Homo sapiens: one gene and its partners. The protein of the gene in region 7 interacts with the protein of the main gene of each other region in a pairwise test. Each region holds a gene or a part of one and is shown on either strand. Other genes may lie near its edges.

The links.
Region 1: the proteins of SMAD9 (region 7) and DSTN interact in a two-hybrid assay, tested with the Homo sapiens proteins (one large-scale study listed by BioGRID and IntAct).
Region 2: the proteins of SMAD9 (region 7) and CYP11A1 interact in a two-hybrid assay, tested with the Homo sapiens proteins (one large-scale study listed by BioGRID and IntAct).
Region 3: the proteins of SMAD9 (region 7) and MTMR11 interact in a two-hybrid assay, tested with the Homo sapiens proteins (one large-scale study listed by BioGRID and IntAct).
Region 4: the proteins of SMAD9 (region 7) and TBCD interact in a two-hybrid assay, tested with the Homo sapiens proteins (one large-scale study listed by BioGRID and IntAct).
Region 5: the proteins of SMAD9 (region 7) and MAN1A2 interact in a two-hybrid assay, tested with the Homo sapiens proteins (one large-scale study listed by BioGRID and IntAct).
Region 6: the proteins of SMAD9 (region 7) and ZSCAN4 interact in a two-hybrid assay, tested with the Homo sapiens proteins (one large-scale study listed by BioGRID and IntAct).

Annotation. Positions count from the first base shown.
Region 1 is NC_000020.11:17,573,075-17,576,574, reverse strand, and holds part of DSTN (destrin), read right to left. Parts: intron 1-3,500. UniProt on the Homo sapiens protein: Actin-depolymerizing protein. Severs actin filaments (F-actin) and binds to actin monomers (G-actin). Acts in a pH-independent manner.
Region 2 is NC_000015.10:74,361,147-74,364,646, reverse strand, and holds part of CYP11A1 (cholesterol side-chain cleavage enzyme, mitochondrial isoform a precursor), read left to right. Parts: intron 1-2,605; exon of another isoform or gene 2,606-3,095; intron 3,096-3,500. UniProt on the Homo sapiens protein: A cytochrome P450 monooxygenase that catalyzes the side-chain hydroxylation and cleavage of cholesterol to pregnenolone, the precursor of most steroid hormones.
Region 3 is NC_000001.11:149,934,080-149,938,159, reverse strand, and holds the start of MTMR11 (myotubularin-related protein 11), read left to right. Parts: upstream 1-1,280; 5' UTR 1,281-1,498; coding exon of another isoform or gene 1,499-1,512; coding exon 1,513-1,578; exon of another isoform or gene 1,579-1,930; coding exon 1,931-2,006; intron 2,007-2,454; coding exon 2,455-2,576; intron 2,577-2,800; coding exon 2,801-2,861; intron 2,862-3,031; coding exon 3,032-3,174; intron 3,175-3,633; coding exon 3,634-3,712; intron 3,713-3,833; coding exon 3,834-3,969; intron 3,970-4,080.
Region 4 is NC_000017.11:82,926,565-82,930,064, forward strand, and holds part of TBCD (tubulin-specific chaperone D), read left to right. Parts: intron 1-621; coding exon 622-759; intron 760-1,340; coding exon 1,341-1,424; intron 1,425-2,548; coding exon 2,549-2,707; intron 2,708-2,797; coding exon 2,798-2,936; intron 2,937-3,500.
Region 5 is NC_000001.11:117,496,449-117,499,948, reverse strand, and holds part of MAN1A2 (mannosyl-oligosaccharide 1,2-alpha-mannosidase IB), read right to left. Parts: intron 3,187-3,500; coding exon 2,967-3,186; intron 568-2,966; coding exon 395-567; intron 1-394. UniProt on the Homo sapiens protein: Involved in the maturation of Asn-linked oligosaccharides. Progressively trim alpha-1,2-linked mannose residues from Man(9)GlcNAc(2) to produce Man(5)GlcNAc(2).
Region 6 is NC_000019.10:57,675,435-57,678,934, reverse strand, and holds part of ZSCAN4 (zinc finger and SCAN domain-containing protein 4), read right to left. Parts: intron 2,895-3,500; 5' UTR 2,790-2,894; coding exon 2,394-2,789; intron 1,022-2,393; coding exon 856-1,021; intron 770-855; coding exon 30-769; 3' UTR 1-29. UniProt on the Homo sapiens protein: Embryonic stem (ES) cell-specific transcription factor required to regulate ES cell pluripotency. Binds telomeres and plays a key role in genomic stability in ES cells by regulating telomere elongation.
Region 7 is NC_000013.11:36,875,239-36,878,738, forward strand, and holds part of SMAD9 (mothers against decapentaplegic homolog 9), read right to left. Parts: intron 1-3,500. UniProt on the Homo sapiens protein: Transcriptional modulator activated by BMP (bone morphogenetic proteins) type 1 receptor kinase. SMAD9 is a receptor-regulated SMAD (R-SMAD).

The DNA of each region.
Region 1 (3,500 bases), on a different chromosome or scaffold from region 7:
TGTTAATTTTAAAACTTTAATTGCATTTTTTACTGAAATCAATTGCTTTTAAAAAATCTACGTATGATGTGAGGGCGATCTGGCTGCAACATCTGTCACCCCATTGATCACCAGGGTTGATTCGGCTGATCTGGCTGGCTAGGCAGGTGTCCCCTTCCTCCCTCACCACTCCATGTGCATCCCTCTCAAAGCTATGCACTCGGTCAAAGAGGATGACCATTCCTGATAGAGGAGAACCGGTCTTTGGTCAAGGTTATATGAGCAGCTGCGCTCCCCTGCTAGAACCTCCAAACAAAAAATCTACGTAAAACATAACAAAGCAAAACATGGAATAGTGTTGGCAGCATGTAAGTATTACAGTATCAGCTTCTAGAAGACTAATCTTGGAGCTAAGAATCACTCTAAATATTCAACTCAATGGGGGTCTTAGTACAGCAGATTCAATGATGAATATAACATTTTGGCCCAAAGTATTACTGAGATGAATAAAACCGATGTTTATTTGTCTAAGTCTATGCCTCTCCCAATTGTAAAATTTCAAGAAAAATGAGCAGGAGGTAATTCAGAAGCACAATTCCAAGTGAAAACTTCTCACTTCCAACATCAATGAAAGGAGGCATGAACAGAAGAAAAGTTGTGGTTACAATATTGCTGAAGTGTTAGGTGTAAATCTTTGTGTATGACTTTCATGGACAATCTAGACAGAAATGTTATGCCACAAGAGAAGTAAACTCAAGATACTTTCACGGCTGGGCGCAGTGGCTCATGCCTGTAATCCCAGCACTTTGAGAGGCCAAAGTGGGTGGATCACTTGAGCCCAGGAGTTCAAGACCAGCCTGTGCAAACATGGTGAAACCCCATCTTTATAAACCCCGTCTTTATATATAAATTTATATTTATAAATCCCATCTTTATATATGTAAAGCTTTTAAAATACAAAGCTTAGCTGGGAGTGGTTGTGCCTGCCTATATATAGTCCCAGCTACTCAGGAGGCTGAGGTAGAGGACTGACTGAGCCTGAGGGTGGACGATGCAGTGAGTTGTGTTCACGCCCCTGCACTCCAGCCTAGGTTAACAGAATGAGACCCTGTCTCCAAAAAAAAAAAAAAATGCTTTCACAATATTCTACTTATTTATTATGCTCTGTGGTTTACATATGCAAATGACAGTACAACAAAGAGACTAGCTCTAGTTACTCAGAGACTAGAGTGTTGTTCTGTGGACAAAATCAACGCATTTGTATGTTAAATTCAGTTTTTCAAGACTTGCAAGTTTTTTTTCAAATTTCAAATGTAGTGTGCTTCATCTCAAATATTACTGAAAGAAAATATAAAGTTACATTAACATAAAAACTCAAAAATTTGAAGTCTTCCTGTATACTAAGTTAAACACAATTTTGATTTAAACAAATTCTATTTATGAAAAATAGTCACTAGGCACAATGGCTCATGCCTGTAATCCCAACACTTTGGGAGGCCAAAGCGGGAAGATTGTTTGAGACCAGTCTGGGCAATGTAGCAAAATCTCATTTCTACAAAAAATTTTAAAAAGTTAGCTGGGTGTGGTGGTGCACATCTGTAGTCCCAGCTACTCCGCAGGCTGAGGTGGGAGGATCATTTGAGCCCAGGAGATCAAGGCTGCAGTTGAGCTCCAGCCTGGGTGGCTGCAAGAGAGTCTGTCTCAAAAAAAAAAAAAAAAAAAAAACAAAAGAAAAGAAAAGAAAAAGAAAAGAAAGAAAAAAGAAAGGAAAAAAAGGAAAGGAAAGGAGAAAGAAAAGAAAGTCAGTCATGTTTACTTGTTTTGCATGTTTGTTTTTTAGACTTTTAATTTTTTTTTTTTTTTTTTTTTTGAGACTGAGTCTCGCTCTGTCACCCAGGCTGGAGTGCAATGGTGCGATCTTAGCTCACTACAACCTCCGCCTCCTGGGTTTAAGCGATTCTCCTGCCTCAGCCTCCTGAGTAGCTGGGATTACAGGCACGTGCCACCACGCCCAGCTATAGACTTTTAATTTTTTAGAGAAGTTTTAGGTACACAGCAAATTTTAGCAGAAGTGCATTGTTCCCATATATCTACTGTGTGTGCTTTTACATTTTGGCTAGAAGAACTGCCAGGAAAGAGAGGGGTAAGTGTAAAGTGAAGGACATTAATCTCCACAGCCCTTGGCAAAGAAGGAAAGAACTCTGTCCTAAGTCACTCTACATTCTACCACTACCAGGGGCCTAAAAATGGCAGGTGGATAGAATTAACAGAGAGTATTGAACTTCTGGTAATTAGCTGGCTAAGGGGCCTGGAAAGAAATTTATGTGCCAGAAAAGAGAAATATTACTCCTCAGTATGAGGTTCTGGTATTGATAATCATGTTCTTGTTTTTTGAGACAGGGTCTCCCGCTGTGGCCAGGCTGGAGTGCAGTAGTACAATCATAGCTCACAGAAGCCTCTAACACCCAGGCTCAAGCAATACTCCCACCTCAGTCCCCCAAATAGCTAGGAGTATAGGCACATGCCAGCATGCCCAGTTAATTTTTATTTAATTTTTTTGTTCAGACAAGGTCTCACTATATTGTCCAGGCTGGTCTCCAACTCCTGGCTTCAAGCAATCCTCCTGCCTCAACCTCCCAACGTGCTGGGATGACAGGTATAGGCCACTGTATCCAGCTGATTTTTTTTTTTTTTTTTTTACTGCTACATTTACTTTATGGCTCTGCAAATAAGCTTAGGTGAAGATGGTAAGTATTTACAGAATGGCCAGGTTTGCAGGATGCAGCATGCGTGTAAAAACCTAAGATGCAATAAACATATGAAAAGAGTCAGCTCACTAGTAATCAAAGAAATGCAAAATAAAATAATGAGAAACCATTTCACAACCATCAGACTGGCAAAGGTTTCAAGTCTCTTATTAAGTGGTGAAAGGCAATGTAGAAACAAGCTGTTAATGATGAGATACAACCAGAACGAACCAGTAGTAGAGTAGAAAATATGTATGCTCCAATCCAGGGCTTCCGCTTCTAGATATACACCATGGAGAGATACACACTGGGGCTAGAGAAGTAATATATAGCAATATATGACATGGAAATTGCCTATTATAAAAACTTTAAATAGACCAAAAAAAGGCAAAAAATTAGGAAATGGCTGAATGTCTATCAACAGGGGAATGGATAAACTTGCACAATCATACAAAAGAACACAATTCAGCAGTTGAAGAACCAAAGCTACAAATAAATCCAAAAGCTGCCCTCCCCTGGGAAAAAAAAAACCACCCCCACAAAGTTTAATTTTTTCTCACAGAGCTGCAAAAGGATACATGAAGCACAGTATTTACGTAAGTTTTAAAAGCACATCAAGGCAATACATATGAATGATTAAGTAGCTAAAAGTATGGAACTATCAATGAATATCAATTTCAGGTGACTACTGTGAACTTTACCTGAGCTCTGTGTTCTCAGAAAGCAGTGATGGTTAATCCACCCCACCGTTTTGTGTTCTGGGAAACAGGTAAC
Region 2 (3,500 bases), on a different chromosome or scaffold from region 7:
GAATTGGACAAAATGCACAGACAAAGTAAGGAAGGAATGAAGGGATTTATTGAAAATGAACATACACACCACAGTGTGGGAGCAGGCGGAGCGTAGGGGCTCAAAGGTCCCGTTACAGAATTGTGGGGCATTTACCCCCAGAGGATTCCATTGGTTACTTCAGATACACCTTATGTAAATGGAGAGGATGAAGTATTCAAGTTACATAGTCATACACCCTATGGAGAGGATATTTCCTGTTATAGCTGAAGTGTGAATCGATCTTCACACTTCAGACCCTATTTTCCTGCCTCATCTGCCCCTTCAAGAGATGTGATCCCCATAAATCTTTATGGGAGGCAGAGGGACCGATGGTCTTTTTTCTGTAACTGCTTCATGCTGGCTTGGGGCATAGTCCCTACCTATTGGGGATCATGGAACTCTCACCCTGCTCTATCTAGTGGAGGAAGGGTAGCTTCTTGATGTCCAGGGGTGGTGTCTTCACTTGGAACTGGCTGGAACCTTTGTTACATGATCATCTGAAGCTTGATGGTCTCTAGGTGAGAGGAAATGAATTTGGTTAAAAGATTTAATGGAAACTTTAGGGGGTGGATACCTATACTGTCAGAAATGTTTGTTGTAGTGATTTGCAGAAGAAAAAACAAAACCTAGTCTTTTCTAGAATCTATGTGTTTCCTTAAAGTCTTGGCATGAGTGGCCCCATTTTGGTTTTGTTTGGTTTGTTGGGGCCTAGTGCATGAGATCAGTCCAAAACAACGGCCTCCCAGAATTTTGTTGAAAAAAATTCCCTTTTTGATCAGGTTTTCACTTAGGTGAGAGTGTGACCAAAACCTAGGGCCTCAGTGCCACTCTCAGTTACCATCATTTTGGGTTTCTGGTCTCAGCATGTCATTTATAGGTTATGGTGTCCTCATGGTTGCATATTTCTTTGAGCTCCTGTTATTCCAGTTGAAGAGAGACCATATGACATTCTAGAGATGGCTCATGCAAGCATTTAAAACCTTTGAGAGCATACAGCTCGTCAGGGAGACCATTATTATGGCTATTAGGAGGATAATACCAAGAATTTGGGAGTATACTCCTTACCCAAGGTCCCCATAAACCAAACCTCCTAAAATCAAATGGATCTAAGAATGAGCTAGATACAGTTTACTCACGGCTGGGTGAGGTGGCTCACTTGAGGTCAGGAGTTCAAGATGAGCCTGGCCAACGTGGTGAAACCCCATCTCTACTAAAATACAAAAATTGGCTGGGTGTGGTCACGTGCACCTGTAATCCCAGCTACTTGGGAGGCCAAGGCAGGAGGATTGCTTGAACCTGGGAGTCGGAGGTTGCAGTGAGCCAAGATCACGCCACTGCACTTCAGCCTGGGCAACAGAGAGAGACTTGACTAATCAATTTCTTTGTCAGTCTCCTACCACTGAATTTCTATAGTCTTCATTTGATGTATTTCTGTATAGGCCACAAGTGCCAGCAGCTGCACAGATACTTCGCTGTTTAGCCAATTCTATTATAACTTTCACAAGAGAATTTAGAGTCTGTAGCCTTTAGAGTAGAATTTGCTATGGAACCTATCATGAGGGATACATTTCTAATCATTGCTTCTTTTACTTTAAACCATGGAAAAAGGACCTAACAAATGATGCCCTTTCAGAAGAGTGAAGGACTTCTGGCAATGTTCTCTTTAACCCACGATGTGGGTTATGTGGAGTGAATCAATTTTTTGTTTTTGATTGATTATGAGCTAACACATCTACCATTAAAGTTTCTTACATACATTGGGCCTTTATCCATGTATAAGGCTGGCTGCAAACTCCTTCACAAATAAAAATGTTCCCCATAAGTGCACATAACAGACCCCTTTTCCACTTCTATTGTTCGTAGAAGGCATAAGCAAGAAAAAATATTCAAAAATAAGAGTTTCATGATAGTAGAAGTCTTAATCTGTGAACTTGGGAAAAGCTGTTCACATCAATGATGTCATCTTCTTCTTGGGAGAAATTTCCCTAGTTAGTTTTACCTTAAGCATTCCAGTGGGTGCACAGCTCCAAGAGCATGGAGGGGCCCTTCTCAGTTGTGAGATTATGAACCCAAAGTTCAAGGTCCTGAAGTTTTGTTATAGTGTAGATGGCAAGGACAGTCTTTCTCTGATGTTTCCAGCAGATTCAAACCATAAAAAGCTTTTTTTTTTAATCTGGTGAAAATACACTGTAGCATAATAATCTACTGTTATAACATCAGCCCTCTTGCATGGGAAAGCTTTTCTACAACCAGAAAACATGCATGGAAAATAACAATGGAATGAAATCCCTTTATAAAATGTTTAAATGGCTGACCAGAAGACCAAATATACCTGAAGCTTTAATTGTTTTCCTAGGAATATGGGATCAAGCATTGGTTATAAACAATTTTTTGTTGTTATTTAGTTTTTATTTCATAATCATAAACTTTAACTCAACTCTGCAGTCCAGCTAGGCATGGAAGGGAACTGCAGCGAGAGCACAAAGATTCTAGGATACTGCGAGCAAATGGGGTGGAGGGTGCTGTCCTGAGCTACAGAAGGAATGGTCTGGTGGTTAAGATAAAACACAAGTCAAACTTATTAGAGTTGTCCACAGTCAGCAATGGTGATCTTCTTCCTGGTCTTGCCATTCCTGGACCCAAAGCGCTCCGTGGCCTCCACAATATTCATGCCTTCTTTCACCTTGCCAAAGACCACATGCTTGCCATCCACCACTCAGTCTTGTCAGTGCAGATGAAAAACTGGGAACCGTTTGTATTGGATCCAGCATTTGCCATGGACAAGATGCCAGGACGTGTATGCCTTAGGATGAAGTTCTCATCATCAAATTTCTCCCCATAGATGGACTTGCCACCAGTGCCATTATGGCATATGAAGTCACCACCCTGACACATAAATCCTGGAATAATTATGTGAAAGCAGGAACCCTTATAACCAAATCCTTCCTCTCCAGTGCTCAGAGCATGAAAGTTTTCTGCTGTTTTTGGAATCTTGTCTGCAAACAGCTCAAAGGAGACGTGACCCAAGGGCTCGCCGTGACTGCGATGTCAAAGAACACGGTGGGGTTGACCATGGCTGATAGTACAGGGCTCCTGGTGGCAGTGACGGCATCTGCAAAGCGACAGGTTATAAACTATTTTAAACAATTTCAGTATTAGCTGGTTTAACATGAAAGTCTTTTCTTGATATGTAATTAATTTTTTGTTGTTGTTGTTTTACGTGGGTTAGTAGCTTTATACAAGAAAATTTGGTCATTTTTGTGGTTTACAATAACTTAACATAATTATAATTGTGATTGGTAACATATACTTAGACATTAGAATTTGAGAAATCCCATACAATTTTGGAATATATTATTCACAAAAATATAACCTAAAGAAGATTTAACATCATTTTGTCAATCCCATGTACCTAAACATGTCAAATAATCCTGTTTACCTCTTTTCTGGATGTTTTCAGGGGCCCTCTGATTCATCTA
Region 3 (4,080 bases), on a different chromosome or scaffold from region 7:
AGACCTTGGGAAATATTTTCTTCCCCCAAGAGGTTGAGGCCCATGGAATGCATTAGGGGCAGGTGGGGTGGTGGTGCTCTGTAGCCTTTAGGACTTCTAGAATCAGGCTTCTGGGCCACCTTCTTAGCAGGTGTATACCTCTTTGTTCCAGACTGACTTTCTGTCTCACAATATCTTCACTATTTCCACAGTTGCAGCCAAGACAGGAAACTGAAAGCTGAGGCCAGAAGGGTGGTGTACTGGGGGGAGGGGAAAATTGAGTGTCACTTTGGAAAACTGGGGCCCCCATCTAAGGATTGCTGCCTCTGTAGATTCAAAAGCAATAAAACAGCAGCTCATTAACTCTTATTTTGTATTTTATTTTCTGTCTTTTTCATGTCTAAATAAAGATTTTTGCTTTGCTGTCCCCAAGTCCCCCTCCTTTAAAGGAGCTGCAGCTCCTTCTCTCCTTGTTCCCAGCTTTCCTTACCCATCTTTGCTTCTAGGGTTGCAGATGGGAGGGACGGGGGATGGACTGCTGAGCTGAAGAGAGGTTTCCAGCCCTCACCTGTGAAAGTCCTGAACATGAATCATTCATTTGGAGATCTGGTGTCTGGGTTGGAGGGGTGGAGTCACATACGGGAATGGGCACTTATTGCCTATTGGTTGTGTATCTACGTGATGGGCAAGATTAACTGGTAAGATCTTTTTGTCCCACCCACATCCCCAAGACTTGCACACAAACTGTACTTGTGTCTGCATCTTGGACACATTTCCATCTCTTTTTATACTTCTCCACTGCAGTCTTCACATGATGTCTGTGTCATGCCCTCTAGAGAAAGATATGCAAAACCACTTTAACCAGTTTCCCTGCTTCCTCACCTAATTCTTGGGCCTCTGCTGACAAAAATCCCCCCAGGTCTAATTTTCATTTTCTTCTGGAAGAGGCGGCAAGGAGGCTTGAACCACTTTCACATTCCTACCCCTCTCCCCGCCCCAAACCCCTTTGAGAAGACAAAAGAACGGAGCTTTTAAGGGAAGTCATCACTGAGACACTCCAGACAGGTAGCCCAGATGATTCCAGCTTCATAATCAATAGAACTGCTCCCCTCAAACGGTCTCCAGTACTCATGAACAGGAAGAGAACAGGGTCTGGGATTGGGGTAAAGAAGGGAGTCGTTTTTCTCTCAGTCCCCATTTCTTCCCCACCCGTCCGTCTCAGACTCCACCGTTTCCTCTCCACTTTTCCAGAATTGTGTGTATTCTCCTTTAAGGGGTTGGGCATCTCTCCCGCCCTCTCCAGAGTCGACTGAAGTTTCCGAGGAGACTTCTCAGGCTGGGCTGGACACACCTTTCCAAGGACCCCCAAACTCTGCTCCGTGCACGTCAAATGCTCCTTTCCCTTGTGTCCAACCCCCTACCCCTCTCCCTAACACCCCTCTTCTCAACAAGACTCAGCCTCTCCCCGAGGTGGGTGAGCATCCTTGAGGTTTCCCACCCTTAACTGCTGTGTCCCCGGATGGAGCCAGAGAAATGTGGTGGGGGGGCCGGGGCCAGAGTTTCAACATTGCCCCCCAGAAGGAGGAGCCAGAGATGGGGGTAAGGAGAAGGAATTTGGGGGGTGTCGGCAAGAGGGTGAGAACGGGGATGAGGTGGAGATAAAAGGGGGAAGCAAAGGCTCTAGAGGAGGAGGAGGAGGGTGTGTCTGTCTATCAGCTTCTGCTGATGGAGCCTGGTCCGTCTTTCTCAGTCTCAAGTTCGTTGTCTCATTATCCATTAACCAGCCCCTCCCTTTACTGTTTACCAGCCCTGTTAGGTCTGGAGCTCCCCACAGACACTGATCTCAGTTTCCCCCGAGAGTGTGAGTGTAGGCCTCTACAGGCAGCTGCCTCTGGGGAGTTGGGGAGCCTAGGGGTTAACTCTAGACCCCCCTCAACCCTCTGGACCAAAGTCTGTCCAGGAAAATAGGATGCCGGAGCCCAGGAGTCGTCAGCCTAGCAGTTGCCTGGCCTCCAGATGCCTCCCAGGTAATAATGCCCTATCACTCTCCAAAGACTTCCAAATTTCATCCTACGCCAATCTTGTTTCATGCCCTCACCAAAGATACCCCTGTGTTCCTCTCGTGGCTCGAAGTACGTCTGCCTGAGGCTCGCTGTCCTCCCTGACAGCCTCTAGAGCTGGCTGAGAGCTGGACCTTGACATTCCTTCTGTTTCCTTGACCCTGTTACCCCTTTTCAAATTTACTTATTCGATACATAGTTAGTGCCTGCTATGTGCCAGGCCTTGTTCTAGGCTCTGTTCTAGTTACAGAAATTAAAAAACATTTATCTTTCCTCATAAGCTTACATTGTAGTGGGCTTTGGGGAGGATTTTAATCTTCCCTATTTAGATCTCCCTTTCTTGGAGGGGTGGGTGTATCCAAGTGTGGGCAACACTGGGAACAGTCATAACAGGGCTTCCCTTCTTCCCCTTTAGGGGAGCAGATCCTAGCATGGGCCCCAGGGGTGAGGAAGGGCCTGGAACCAGAATTGTCTGGAACCCTGATCTGTACCAACTTTAGGGTCACCTTCCAGCCCTGTGGATGGCAGTGGAATCAGGTGAGATGGTTGGGGCCACAGAAATGACAGCTAGTGGGAAATGGGTAGGGGAGTCTAGCAGGATTTAGACAAACATTATGGGTTAAGGGCTGTCTTTTGAATGTATCATTGATAATCAGTGGGAACTCTCTCTAGGGTTGTTGCCCCCTAGAAGGGGTTGGGGCTGCCAGGGTAGGAAAATGAGGGCGATTTCAGATGTCTACCCAGTCACGTGTTTCGTCTAGGACACTCCCTTGAACAGTGAATACGATTTTGCCCTGGTCAACATTGGACGATTAGAGGCTGGTAAGTTGGGGGGGGGTTTGGTGAAGGGGTTCACTGGGGTTGTTGGAACTCCCTCCTCATCCTTCCTCTGTTCTCAGAAAACAGCAGGGATGGAGTGGGATGGGCTGCAAGAGTCCCTTCTGGAGAGACTCTGGTCCATGGTTACACTGTTCTGTACCTCTTGACTTCAGTGAGCGGCTTGTCCCGAGTCCAGCTCCTCCGTCCAGGGTCCCTGCATAAATTTATCCCTGAGGAGATTCTGATTCATGGCCGAGACTTCCGGCTGCTCAGAGTTGGTTTTGAGGCTGGAGGCCTAGAGCCTCAGGCTTTTCAGGTAAGAGGCCCCTAACCTGAGGCTTTCTCCTCACCTCAGAACCTTGGGATCCTCTCCCTGACAATTTCTGAGACTCCTCCAGCCCCTGGGATCCTCTCATCATTCCCCCTGCTTCTCTCAAGGAAAGGCTAAAAGGCTGGGATAAATGATTGCGTGATGAGAGTAAAGAGCCTGCGCTCTAGCCTTACTCTATTAATTACCAGCAGTGTGACTGTGGGCAAGTTTCCTCCTCTGAAAAACCAGGATTCCTCCCAGAATCATCATTCTAGGATTCTGTGGTTCCAGATTTGTTCTCCCGACCCCAGTCCCCATGACCTGAGGAAGCCCCCTTCTCTAGGGACTGTCTTCACTGTTCTTCTTCATTCTTGGCAAAGAGAGTGGAGCAACACATGGGCTCCATTTCCTTCTTTTCACTTACTCAGCCTAAGCCAAAAGGATGGAATGTCCTTTCCTCTGCAGGTGACCATGGCCATTGTCCAAGCCAGAGCTCAGAGCAATCAAGCCCAACAGTATTCGGGGATAACCCTGAGCAAGGCTGGTGAGTGAGAGTGCTTTAGGGTAAGGAAGAGTCTGAAAAAGCAGAGGATGGCTGATGACAAAGAGCTGAGAAGCTGTCTCTGATTTTCTCCTTCCTCCTCTATGTCTCACTCCTGTTCTAGGCCAGGGTTCTGGCTCCAGAAAACCACCAATTCCTCTCATGGAGACAGCGGAAGACTGGGAGACTGAGCGGAAGAAGCAGGCAGCCAGAGGCTGGAGGGTCAGCACGGTCAACGAGAGGTTCGACGTAGCCACCAGGTGATCCCCCAGTGCACCCCAACCCTGCTGCTCTCCCAATCTTCCCTTAGTTCCTTGATCCTCTAAAGCTAGGACTTCCCACAAACTCCAGCCTCCTAGGACACCCACAAA
Region 4 (3,500 bases), on a different chromosome or scaffold from region 7:
TTTGCTCAGAGGCAGGACTTATGATTCTTCACTTCCTAGGTTTCCTCTCTTCCAGAGGATCGTCAGTCCCAGCTGCTGGAGGCTCTTTCATTCTCTTGCTGTCATAGTCGTAGTGAATGTTAAACTTCTTTAGGGACACTGGGCCCCTTGGAGAATTGGAGAATGTGTCCTGGCCCAAGGTTGGCAAAGAGGAGCTGACCCTGCCAGCCAGTGTTTGGAATGATCTCTGCACTCGTTGACAGACACGCACCTGGGGCCACGCCATATGCCCTCTCCTCCCTGCAGGCACACAAGAGGAGCAGTCCCGCGGGGGCCACGCACGCCCCCTTCTCTCCTATGCCAGCATCCGTTCCCTCTAGTCAGGGTGGGAAGTGGGAGGGACCAGCCGCAGGGGGCGTCCCCATCCACCTTTCAACCGGAGAGACGGCAGAGCGTGACCTCGGGGAAGCACGTCCCACGTTCCATACATGTGGAAGGAGCTCTGTGTTTCTGATCTACCCGAGGGTCCTGGACTGTTCTGAGCGTGTCTTCTCAGGATCAGGAACACACATCAGCCCTCTGCGATGTGGAAGATGAGGCTCACCGATGTTTGTTTGTTAGCTCACACATTTTAAATTTCAGGATTTGCCAGACTGTTGGTGTGAAAGCAGGAGCCCCAGACGAAGCTGTGTGCGGAGAGAATGTTTCCCAGATTTACTGTGCGCTGCTGGGCTGCATGGACGACTACACCACGGACAGCAGAGGGGACGTGGGCACCTGGTACGTACGTAGCAGTGGGTGAGCGCTTCTTCTGAGAAGCCCATCTATTCCGTGGAAACTCGGAGGCCCCGGGCTTTTCTGCAGGGAGAAATCTTTGTAGATTTGTGCCGTGTTTTGCGTTTTAAAGGCTCTGGGGAAGATGACCTGTTCTCTGCTCCCGGGTGAGCCTGCGTGGCAGGGCTTTGCAGGTGCTTGTCCAGCCCGTCCTCAGGTGTTGGGCCTGTGTCGTCCTCGTTGACAGGGTGTGAGGGAGGACGCGTCTTCAATGAAAGGCTGCCGGCTGCTTACATTGGGTTTTGCCAACATTTCTTGCTGTAGTGGGATTGATAACCCCTGAAACGCCTGTGTGTGTAGGATGCCTCGGGGCCCCGGTGTGTGTGGCTGTGGGTGGCTCCCTGCACACGTCCCTGTAGCGCACAGGGAACCTCTGCAGGCCCCGTGACTCCCTGGCAGCGTGCCTGGGCTCTGTGTGGGGTTAGTCACGGGTGTCGAATTCACACAGGCTGCCGGCGTGGTGGGCAGAACCAGGGTTGGAACCCCCCTCTCAAGCTGGGTGTCTCTGCCTCTCCTTGTCCCATCAGGGTCCGCAAGGCCGCCATGACCAGTCTGATGGATCTGACACTTCTGCTGGCTCGGAGCCAGCCTGAGCTGATCGAGGCCCATACGTGAGTGTCACGTCGCAGCTCTTCTGCATCCTAGAGGGCAGCCCCGAGCTTGGGGAGGCTGGCGGGGCGGGCGGTCCTGGTGCTCAGTGGCATTTGCACTGCTGGGCACACACCCTCCTCCCAGAGAGCCTCTCTGGTCCCTGACCCCAGGTTTGTGCAGGCCCCTCCTCCTGCCCCCATAGCCATGGCGTGAGCTGGGGCCCATCCTCCTCTGCCCAGTGCCCCCAGGACGAGGCTCTGCTCCCCAGCCTGGGCCTCCAACGGTGCTCTGGCCAGTTTGATGACAGCCAGCTTCCCGGGGTAGGGCCGGGCAGGAGGTGGGGACTTCTCAGCTTAGGACCCTGAACCTGGGGGTCTGCTCCTGCCAGGACCAGCTGAGCCATCACTCAGTTCCCTGCACCTGAGGCTGCCATTGGGGCCTGCCCTTGCTGTGTGTCTCTGTCGGGGGCACGGGGTTGTGGGTACCCCCAGGCCCTGCCCTTTCTGTCGGTCTCTCTGTCGGGGGCACTGAGTCATGGAGGTCCAGGCCCTGCCCTTGCGGATCTCTGTCAGGGGCACTCAGTCAGGGGGTCCAGGCCCTGCCCTTGCGGGTCTCTGTCGGGGGCACTGAGTCATGGGGGTCCAGGCCCTGCCCTTGCTGTCAGTCTCTCTGTCAGGGACACTCGGCCGTGGGGATCCCAGGGCCTGATTTCCTTAGTTCTCACCTCTTTCTCTTTCCCCCTCCCCATCTCTTCCCCAGCCCCAGCTTCTCTCTCCCCATCCCCGGCCTCTCTGTCCCCATCACTCTTCTCCACCCGCTCCTGTAATCCTATTTGTTGTCCCTGCTTCAACCCTAAGACCTCATCAGCACGCATGTAACACGTAGCACATGTGTAACAAGTACGTAGCATGTATTTGCTGCGCACCTGTAGGGTTGGGCTCCTGGGATGTGAAGGTAACGGAGTGTGGTTCTTCCGAGCCAGTGTCCTGGTGTCAGCTGCCAACTCAGCCACCATGTCCCGAGGAGCCCGCATGTCCTCGTGGTGCTTGGGCTGGAGTCACGGCTCGGACCGCCTGTGCTCAGTTTACCGCCCGCTCTTAATTTACCGCCCGCCCTTGGTTTACCTCCTGCTCTCGGTTTGCAGCTGTGAGCGCATCATGTGCTGTGTGGCCCAGCAGGCCAGTGAGAAGATTGACCGTTTCCGTGCTCACGCCGCCAGCGTGTTCCTGACGCTCCTGCACTTTGACAGCCCTCCCATCCCCCACGTGCCCCACCGAGGAGAACTGGAAAAGCTGTTTCCCAGGTACTGTCGGGGTGTAGGCCCCCCGTGCTGGCCCCGCAGCCATGGCGAGATCATTGGCAGCCCGGCCTTGTCTCACTCACTCTCTTGCAGGTCCGATGTGGCCTCCGTGAACTGGAGTGCACCTTCCCAGGCCTTCCCACGCATCACCCAGCTCCTTGGGCTGCCCACCTACCGCTACCACGTCCTGCTGGGGCTAGTCGTGTCCCTGGGCGGCTTGACGGAGTCGACGGTGAGGAGGCGTCGGGCTGGCTGGGGCAGGAGGTGGCTCCAGGAGTGCCTGGTGCTTCCCTGTCTCTTGGGAGCATGTATGGAGCTGGGCCTTTTCTTCCATTGCTTTCTATCTCTCTCGGGCATATTTGGTTAGGGGGTCAGGGGCCCAGTGTCTTCCTCATGACCCAGGAGGCTTAGGGCCTGTGGGATGGTTGAGTCTGATGAAGGTGGGACAGGGCCAGCGCCACTCTCTTCCTGCGGCCGCAGCCTTGGAGCTCCCAGCGTCCCCTCGGGGTTCAATCCTCCAGGACCTGTGTCTGATGCCTGCATGTGGGTACCTGGGCTCCATCAGGTTCTAGATCGGCCTCCGCCCTCCACTTTCAGGGCTCCAGGCCCAGCTTCTCATGTCTGTGGGGAGGGTCTCCAGAGCCTTGGTCTGTGGCTGAGCTGTGGAACTTGAAGGCCTCTCTGCATCTTGTCACTCGTGGCCCCTGCACCTTGGGTCATGACCTGCTTTATGTGGCAACCCTGTGACAGCTGCTAAGTCCTAGAAAACACGTAACAGGACGTGAGGTGCCCTCTG
Region 5 (3,500 bases), on a different chromosome or scaffold from region 7:
TCAAAGAATAAAACAACCCCTTACCCTGGGAATAAGCTATACTTTCATAAAAGACTAATAGTTTTTTCCTCCCTAGGTACTGATAGCTATGGATTCCCTGAAAGACTTTAAGAGTAAACCACTTGCTTCCTTTACTTAACTAACCATTAAAAATTCCTCCTTTGAAATATATATATTTATATATTTTTAATATATTTTAATATATATTTAATATATATCGTAAGATTTATTTCTACTGCCCAGAAACTTAAATTGACTAAGAGTTTCTTCATCAGATAAATAAAAACTGCCCTACAGATACTAAAAATGAGGTAACATGGGTGAGGGTATGTGGCATCATAGGAGGGCATGAGTTAACACTCTTGCAGATAAAATGGAATATTGGCTTATTTACCAGTGCTGCTTCCCAGCCCCACTGCCTGTATCTTGGATCGTGAGTGAATCGCCATAGGTACCAATAGGTTTCAATTACTTCTGGACGGAGGATATAATACTTTTCAGCCTGCCGGACAGCCACAGCCTCCACTGCACCATCAAACTTGAATGATTCAGGACCTAGCTTTAATGCTGTAACATGACAAAAGAAATAACTGAGCAAAATAAACCATTTATGTTTGTTTGCAAGGACTTCTTTCTTCCCTGAAAGAACAGAATATGAAGTAATTTTTGTTGTTTATTTTTATTGTTGCTGTTTGCACTCAGTGCAAAATGAGTCATTTTAAAAGATCCACATTTGGTTTTCTTAAAATAGACTTATAAACATTCCTGTTATTCTAACATAAAATGTTTCTCAGAATAATGTGTATCAACATACTGCTAAATCTAATTCTACCAAAAAGAGTCTAGTAATCTTTTGGAAACAAATGCAAACTAGACATTTGCACATCATACAGTCCATTGTGGTCTAAAATAAAAGTATATAGATAATGACACTGTGTGGATGTTTTTTTTAAAGGCAAGGTAATTTTAAAGACATTTTGCCATAATACACACATATAAGGAAACATTTTAGAGCTTAGATTATGAATTGATTTAGTTGTAGATAATTACAGTATATATTTAGCTGGAATAACTACTAAGGAAAAATGAATGGATATTTTAAAATATGGTGGCCAAAAATTATAGCACAGCTATAAGAAAACACAGCAGAGGATATAATAACCTGCTGGAAAGTTAGCAAAACTAGGATTGTACTTTTTAATTAAAGGATCTAAATTGAGATTAAAGACAAGTAAAAACAACAGAAGACTTGAAAATACAGGACACAAATCAAATAATCATTTTTTGGTTTACCATAACAAAGAGGGTCATGGGTTCATCAACTTGCAATGTGAAAATGACAATCAGAACAAGAATCAGCATCAGCAATGTCATTATGAAACATTAAAATCAGAAATATAAGGAAATCCTTTCAAACTCTGGTACACTATGAATTTCTGAAAGGCAGGGAATGTATCTTGTTCATACTTTAACCTATAAGCATCTAGCATAATACTTGGCATATAATGGCTGTTCCCTGTTTCATGGAGTAAATATTTAATTATAGTAACTATGATATACCATATTTTAGAATGTATGCTATATGAAATTCAATTATTTTAGGTCTATTATTTGATTTTTGGTCAAAATCTGCAAAATAACAATCCTTATTCTCATGGATCCTAATATAAAATTGAATATCCATCCTGGTCCTCAATGTTTTACTAATTTTAGCTATATTTTAAGGCATAATTGGCATTCTGTATCAACACGATAATTTAATTTAGCCTCTATTTTGAACTCAGATCGCTGCCATTATATGTATTATACAACAACACTTAAACTACCCTAAAATAACACTACTTCACCGTCCTCTTGACTTATATTCTTTCAAGAAATGGAACCCTTATTTAGTTAATGAGAACTGAAGAATCAATTTTGCCATAAGTTTAATTCCTTACTGTATAAAAATAACTTGACAGATTTATGAACTAGCATAAATTTTAGGTCAATCATATTTGTTTCATGGTATCTGATGATAAATTAACCCTAAAACAGAAATTGTTATTTAATAAAATCAACAATTCAACTTCCGAAATCAAATAGAAATTTCTAGTTTTTTGGCTTTCAGGGAGCTCATTATCTATTACTTCATATAGAAACTCATGTTTTTAAAGCCAGAGAAAACCTTGGAAGGTCTAGTCCAGTGTTTTTCAGCCCCCTTTTCATTACTGCACCCCTAAGAAACCTTTTGTCTTTTTTAAAAAAGCCTAATTGCCTTCTCCCTCCATAAAATTTTAATACCAAATATATACTGTGTATCTATTTATGACTATATGTATATCTGTGCTTTATACATAAAAAGAGTAAAAATTTTCTCAGCCCCAACCAAAACAATTTTTGTCACCATTTAGGAATCATCTCCTTTTCCAAGTAAGGACACTGAAGTTCAGAAAATATTTGCCCAGTGCAATGTCAGAGGATCTTTTTAGTTAAAGCCATAAACAATTCCAAAAACTACTGGTGAACTAATTGAAAAACTACTAGTTAGCCAGATACCAATAAAGATAAATATTGTTATCTTTTGGTTATTCTTCTTATCACAAGAGGATAGGCAAGGCAATATAACTGAAGTCAGTCAATTTTATGTTCTTTTAAGTAACTGTTTTTATAGAAGCTGAAATGGCAAAAATAGATTCTTATATTAAAAGTTATTCCATATATTCCCAAATACCCCACGATTCTTGTCTTTAAAACAATTACTTCAAAATCTTTAACAGAAACAGCAGCAGAATTCAGAATTTAAAAAATAATGCAGAGACACATTTCCAGAATTAAAATTCAAGTTCTTAAGAAAATGATTTGCCTTGTTGGTGTAAACTATTTGGAAGTAAAAAGTGCCTATATATTCTCCTTCTTATTGCTGAACACATTTTTAACTTAGAGATTATTTTAGACTATATAATTAGCCTTATTAATATTCTTACCAGTTCTGTCATATGACTCATGACAAGTACGTGCAATTTCTGCCCCTAGCTCTAAATAATGACCAGCTTTATCTGCTCTGGAACCATCTGCTCCTAGTGCAAACATTCCCCCAGCAAAGCAGGCCAAATGCCCCATCTTTTTTTCCAAGTGCCCATTCTTCCATTCTCCAATAAAGGTAAGACCTCCACGAGACTTCTTAATAAGATGTTTTTCTATAGCCTACAGGAAAGAAAAGATATTCAAAATTTTAGATGCAAACTATTAGTGTTCAAACTTACTATATCCTTCTGGCCATTATAAAACCTGGGTAATATGATAGTCTATAAAGTAGTAACTTTCCCAAACTGAGACTTAATTAACAGCAAGTGTCGGAGTGGGTGATCAAATTGCATATAATCTGGAACCAATATCTGAATCACTACCATAATAAGACAGAGTGGAAGAGGAGAGACTTGGCCTAAAGATTACCTTCTACATAATATTATCTTTAGTCCCTTACTTCTCAAATTTAGGCATTTGTTTTGGATGCTTTG
Region 6 (3,500 bases), on a different chromosome or scaffold from region 7:
ATATTTATACACATTATCAGACCAGCAGCTTAGGAAGCTTCTGGTGTGGAGGGAACACTTGGCAGGGTAATTTTCTCATGAGTCCTCATATGGCGGTGGTATGTGGATGACTGGCGGTAGCTTGTCTTACAAAAGGGACATGTATAAGGCTTTTCTCCTGTGTGGATTCTCTCATGAGACCGCAGGTTGGTTTTGTGGCTGAAGGACTTTTTACACATGCTGCATGTGAAAGGCTTCTTTCCTGTGTGAATTATCTGATGCACCCGTAGGTCTGATATCTGGAAGAAGCCTTTTTGACACTCGGGACAAACAAATGGCCTCTCATTCCTGTGTCTTCTCTGGTGAGCTAATAAGTGACAGAGATACTTAAAGACCTTGGGGCATTCTTCACATTTGTATGATTTTTGGACTCCATGGGATCCTTTCTGATGTACCTCACATGTGGAATTTCCCTCATTGCTCTGGTGGGTAAGGGCAGACTCAGGGGAGGACTGCTCTGGTTGAGAGATACACCCTGCTCCCATCACCATAGGGACACCTTGGAAAGTGATTCCATTTATGGACCCTTCCTGAGATCTAGCAGTGACTAGCTCTGCTCTTTTTGAGTTGTATGGGTTGTCAGAAGAAACACCTCCCTCTTCAGGCCTAGGACCGTTCTCTTCCTGGATGATGATTAGGGAAACTATTTGATTGCCTTGATTAGTAATATTTTCATTTACTCGAGTAGTTTTCGAAGAACTGTTCCAGCCATCTTGTTCATCTTCATATCCTGTGAAAATAGACACTCAATGAAGTTGTACTTAAGAAGGGGTCCACATAGAACACTCCTCAGTTGTGCAGATTCACCTGACTTACCTTGTCCTGTTTCTAAGGAAGTATCTTGGGAAGTCTGGGAGGGTGTCCCCATGTTTGCTTCTCTTGTGGTTTGGGCATTCACTTGTTTTGTGAGATGAACAATGACATCTCTTAAGGGCATATCCTCAGAAAAGAGAGCTTCCTGTCCCTGCATGTGGACGTGGACCTGTAAAGAAAGCCAGATCACTGTTGTATCTGAATCTGTTGTGTAACAGAAGACTTTTTGGAAAAGTGGTCCTTAACAGGCTCTCACAAGCTCCCTCAAGTATTGGCTATCACATATTTTGTCCACCATCTCTGATGGTGTTATTCTTGTTACTACAAGCTCTTATGTTTAATAAAGTCACATGGACATTGAATTTACAAGTACTGAATCATTTCCCCTAGGAAAAATTCAGGGTTAGTTTCCTGTGAGCTTCTGGCTACATTATTTTTGTCAACTGATCAATACATGAGTTTGTTTTATGTGTGTATATGTTCAAAGACACCCCATTTAATATATATTATTGATTAATCCTGAACTCAGAGGATCCAACACATGTATTATCTCCATAATACATAGCAACTTTCCTGCACTTAGGAAGACTAGACAGTGTTTCAGCATTTTACTTCAGTGTCACTTTAAACAACAAAGTTATCAATAAAAAGCAAAAAAAAAAATGTGCCACTAAATAGACTGTGAAAAGGACACTTATTTACACTGTAGGAACCAAAATAGGAAGTGAGGTTGTGGCCTTGTTCAACCTCACCTGGAAACATGCACCTAAGGTAAATCAAATATTTTACCACCTGCACATATCTGAAAATGACGGAGAAGATGCCTCAGGTATTTATTTTAAGCTTACAAATAAATTTTAGCAATTTTGCAAATATGGGCTCTGAGAATAAGGATCTACCGTAATTGCTTCTTTAGAATGTCTTTCTTGATTAGAGTTCCCTGACAGAAGAACAAGCTCTTGTCAAGACATTTCTTCCTCAACCTTGATGTCTTCATTTAAATGTCAATTTCAGGCTGGTCTCACACCTGTAATCCTAGCACTTTGGGAGGCCAAGGCAGGCGGATCACTTGAGGCCAGGAGTTCGAGACCGCCTGGCCAACATGGTGGAACGCTGTCTCTATTAAAAATACAAAAATTAGCCGGCCTTGGTGGAGCACGCCTGTAATCCCAGCTACTCTGGAGGCTGAGCCACGAGAATGACTTGTGCCTGGGAGGCATAGGTTGCAGTGAGCTGATATCATGCCAAAAAGTCAATTTCTCAGAGTCTGCCATTATGCAGACTAAAATTAAGTTAATCAAACATCAATATGTTTGGCTCCTATATGTCCTACAGAATAAACAGATATATACCTTTTTGCTTTTTTTCTTGAGAACTTAGGACATTGAAGATTATTCTTTGTGAGAATGGTGGGAGAGTGTGAGCTGACTAATAACTGGACCTCCAATAGCTTCTCTAACTTCCAGACAACTCTAACTGACTGTGATTTATTCCTTACTTTCCTTTGTCTCTCATCCCAGAAGTTAGAACCCTGTACTCACTAAGGCAGGTGGATTTATGCTGTCATCAGTCAGGTCTTCTATGAATCTCTCCAAGTTTTTGCCACTTGATTTCCATTTCTCTTTCACACTGGCTTTGTCATTGCAGTGGCCACCAATCATAAACTGCTCCAGGACTAATAGAGAAATAATTTCATCCTTGCTGTGCTTTTCTGGTTGCAGCCATGAGTGAAAGATCCTATAAAGTCTTTGCAATTCCTGCCTTGCATATGAATTATTGCTGTCTTGAAATGAATTGAGCACCATTCTTGAGAACTCAGAAATCCCTTCTTCTCTCTGAACAGCAGGTCCTTGGCTTTGTTGAAACGCTGAATTTTCTGATCCAAGATTATTCTCGGATGGTTCACACTGAAATATGGTTCTTAGATCTAAAGCCATTCTTAGCAATAATTCTCAGAGAGACTTTACTTTGATGATTCAGTCTCTTGCCTTGTGTCTCTAGGGATTTGTTTCAACAGTTGGTGGATTCTTTAAAACTGCAAGCTAGAAATAGAAAAGAGATGAGTAATTAATTGCACCACTGGCATAATTAAAGACAAATCAACCAAAAAGTTAGGCCTACATGGCTCTATGGATGAATTCAAAGAAATAATTATAACTTAACATAAACTCTCCCAGAGCATATAAGAGGAAGCACTACCCACTTTAGTTACTGAGGTCAGCACTTCCTGATAACAAAATTTTACAAATACATTAAAATTATCCAAAACAAAATATTTGAAAATAAAATCTACTCACATATACATCGCAAATGGTGTTCATTTCCAAAATGCAGGAAGTTTGGGTTAAAATTCAAAAATCAATGCAATTTACTTCGTTAACGGGATATGGATACAAGAACATAATAAAATCATCTCAATGAATGCATTTAAAATGTTTAAATGCCAATGTTTATTCCTGAAAAAGGCACTTAATAAACTAGAACTATTAGGAAATATCCTTGGCTGGGCACAGTGGCTCACTCCTATAATCCCAGAACTGTGGGAGGCCGAGGAGGGCGGATCACTTGAGGTCAGGAGTTCGAGACTAGCCTGGCCAACATGGTGAGGCACCATCTCTACTAAAAATACAAAACTTGCCGGGTGTGGT
Region 7 (3,500 bases):
ATAAACAGACAATTACAATAACAATGACATTAACCCCGAAGTCTGCCATCTGCCTTTGACACCATACATCTATCTCTTTCTTAACAAACAATAATTTTCAGTTATATGGACAGAAAATAAACTAAGAAGGGTAAATAAAAGGTTTTAAACTAAAACTGCTACAGGTGAGGGTGGCAGAGAAACAAATAATTTCTTCCCCTTTTCTAAGCTATTGTATACGTATGCTGCCTTATGACACCAGAGAACAAACATTCAACATCACCATCAAACAGTGACATGGATCATAAACCATTAAATTCCCCTTAATGTATTCATATTCCACAACTATGCAGGAAAAAAAAAGATTATGTGCCTCATGAATAGTCTGAAGTGAGGAGTTGACACAGCGAATGTGTATGGCTTCTTTGTCAATGACCCTTCATCAAAATGTTAACGATGTTCAAGTAAACACTCACTTCTTTATGAAGAAGAATTTGAATCATCTCTGTGACTTCAGTTTTAATGTAAAATATCTACGGTATATTCCTAACACTGATAAAAATATAATGCCTCCTATCCATCTGAATGTAGAGACTTCTATTTCTTCATGGCCTGTAGATCTGAGGCACCAAGAGAAAAGAAAGGATACATTTCCCTTTATCATAACAACTATCTTGATAATATATTTTTACCATCTGGGTAAAATCAAAGCCAGTGGATGTTTGCAAAGAAAACTGATAGTTTCATCCTAGTTGTTATTTGACCTGACTGGCTCCGTTGCCTTAAATGTGCACTGATCATATTTTTAAATACTTTCACTCACAACACAGCTATCCCTAATTACTTAATTCCACTTCCACATCTCAACTGCTGCTTGTAAATATGACAGTGCGCTTACAGACACTCATGCCTATCTTATGCCACTTTTAAACACCATGCTATCTTTACATCTCAGTGTCACACGGGGGGAGACAGCGGAAGGAGTTACAGGGCACATGGGCATGCAAAGCAGAGCTGGAAAAAAAACACTTCTGTCTTTTTAAAAAAAGTCATGTGGTTTTGATATAATATGAATATTTTATATAAAAAAGAAATTACACTCCTGAAATAACCTCCAGCCAAATGGAGTAAAATCATCATGTACCACAACAACAGTCTTGCATGGCTTCCACCAGAACTGTGCCAGGTAAAGTGTGTCTGAGGACTGGGGACCCTTCACCAACTGTTGGGTACGAGTCTGTGAAGAAATTAGTACTTAGAAACTTTTCACAGCAATTTGACAGAGTTTCTAGTTTACACTTGTTTAAATAATTTTTAAAATTGGGCTTATATTTTCTAAGTCTTTTTAAAATTTCATTTGCCTAGTAATTTGTCTGTACTATAAAAGTGTTCGTTTGAAGGACTGGAAATTAAAAAAATAAAAACTGATCCCTCACCACACATAACTTGGAAAGCACTGAAGTCAATTATTGAAGTGGATGTGTGAATGAAAAGAAAATGGGAATGCAGCCTTCAATGTATCTAAAATGGATGGCTAAAAAATGAGATTTCAAAGGCAAAACTTAAGCTTTATGATAAATAGGAACTCAGCAAACTTGTTTAACATTAACATTTTTATTATTCCTAAAATATTTACTTTAAATATGGATAGCTAACTAGATATAAAATCTACTTTTTCTATTAAAAAAACACAAGTAAGAAAAACCTCTGTAACTTAAATATTACCTTAAATTAATATAATCGTTACCCATCTTTCCTTCTGGAAATTCACACCTAAATTATGATAAAATGAAATATATTTACCATATGTAAAACACTCACACTATCATTCCTAAAAGAATCTTACAGAACATGAAAAACTAAAGGCCAGGTATGGTGGCTCATGCCTGTAATCCCAGCACTTTGGGAGGACGAGGCAGGTGGATCATGAGGTCAAGAGATCGAGACCATCCTGGCCAACATGGTGAAACCCCGTCTCTACTAAAAATACAAAAAGTAGCTGGGCATGGTGGCACGTGCCTGTAGTCCCAGCTACTCAGGAGGCTGAGGCAGGAGAATCGCTTGAACTGGGGAGGTGACGGTTGCAGTGAGCAGAGACTGCGCCACTGCACACCGGCCTGCCAACAGAGCAAGACAAAAAAACAAAAGACATGAAAAACTAAAATGTCAAATAGTTCTTTAAAATTAGGCTTTTGAATATTCAAAAGGAAAACCAGGTACATTTTACAAGATATTTCTTACAAGTTGTTAAATTTTACAACTACATTATTCAGGAAGACAGAAATGATTTATTAATGAACATTTTTCCATTTGGATATATTTTGGATGCTTAATGTAATTCAAATCTTTGAAACACAAAATGGAATCCAGTCATTTTTGTTATAAGCTTAGACATTATTGACTTTTTTTTTTAAGTAAGCGAAAAGAGTCAAAATGAACCAGGGAAGAAGGGTGGAAAGCAACTCGCTCCAGGATTTAGGGGAAACGCATCAGATTTGCCAAGCATGTGGAACCTTCTAATACCTTCTCAGCCAGGGCCTCAGTCCCTGAATGGGCTGTGGGAGGCATCCACACACAGGTAGATGTTAAGTTCTGGGAGCTTGAAGGATCACTTAGCTAAGACTGAGGTAGGCTGGGCATAAATCACTTATTGGATACTGTTTTAAGGTTAAGTGAACCTGCCTACGTAGACAGGACCATCTCTTCACTGGACATGGGCAATTTCCCTGAGCTAATGTGCCAGCGCTTTGGTTTCCTGGGATGAGGCAGATGGCCAAAGAGAGAAAGCTCTCCTAAAACTGTGTTCTTGTGTGAAATGCCACAGAAACACTCAATCTAAGAGAATCACAGTGAAACCCTGTTATAGCCAGTGTGAAGGAACAAAGACAAACACCAGGCTTCTCCAAGAGGAGGAGGAAATATATACATATTTCTTACACACATATATATAATATACATACACACACACACACACACAGGGGTGTGAAGGGTTTTAGAAAGATACTTTCCTATACAATCATGCACTGTGTAATCATGTTTTGCTTGAGGGACCAATATAAGACAGTGGTCCCCCAAGATTATGATACTGTACTTTTGCTGTACCTCTTCTATGTTTAGATCTGTTCATATACATTCAATACCATTGTGGTTAGGATTGCCTACAGTATTTAGTACAGTAGCATGCTGTGCAGGTTAGTAGCCTAGGAGCAATAGGCTACACCATATAGCCTAACGGTGTAGCAGGCTCATGGTTTGTGTAAGTACACTCCAGGGTGTTCACACAAGGAAGAAATTACTTACTGATGCATTTCTCAGAATGTATTTCCATCATTAAGTGATACCTGTCTGTACTTAAAACCATTTTTAAAAATAACTGCCTGGAATGATTTCCAGCAACTCTTTCATTGGCTGTTTTCAGACCTAGACATGAGATATCTTCTACTTACCTGAACTTGAACAAAGTAGCAGCCAAAAACCCTGCCTTAGTTCAGTTTAGTACAGTTCAGTTCAGTTGTTTGGGG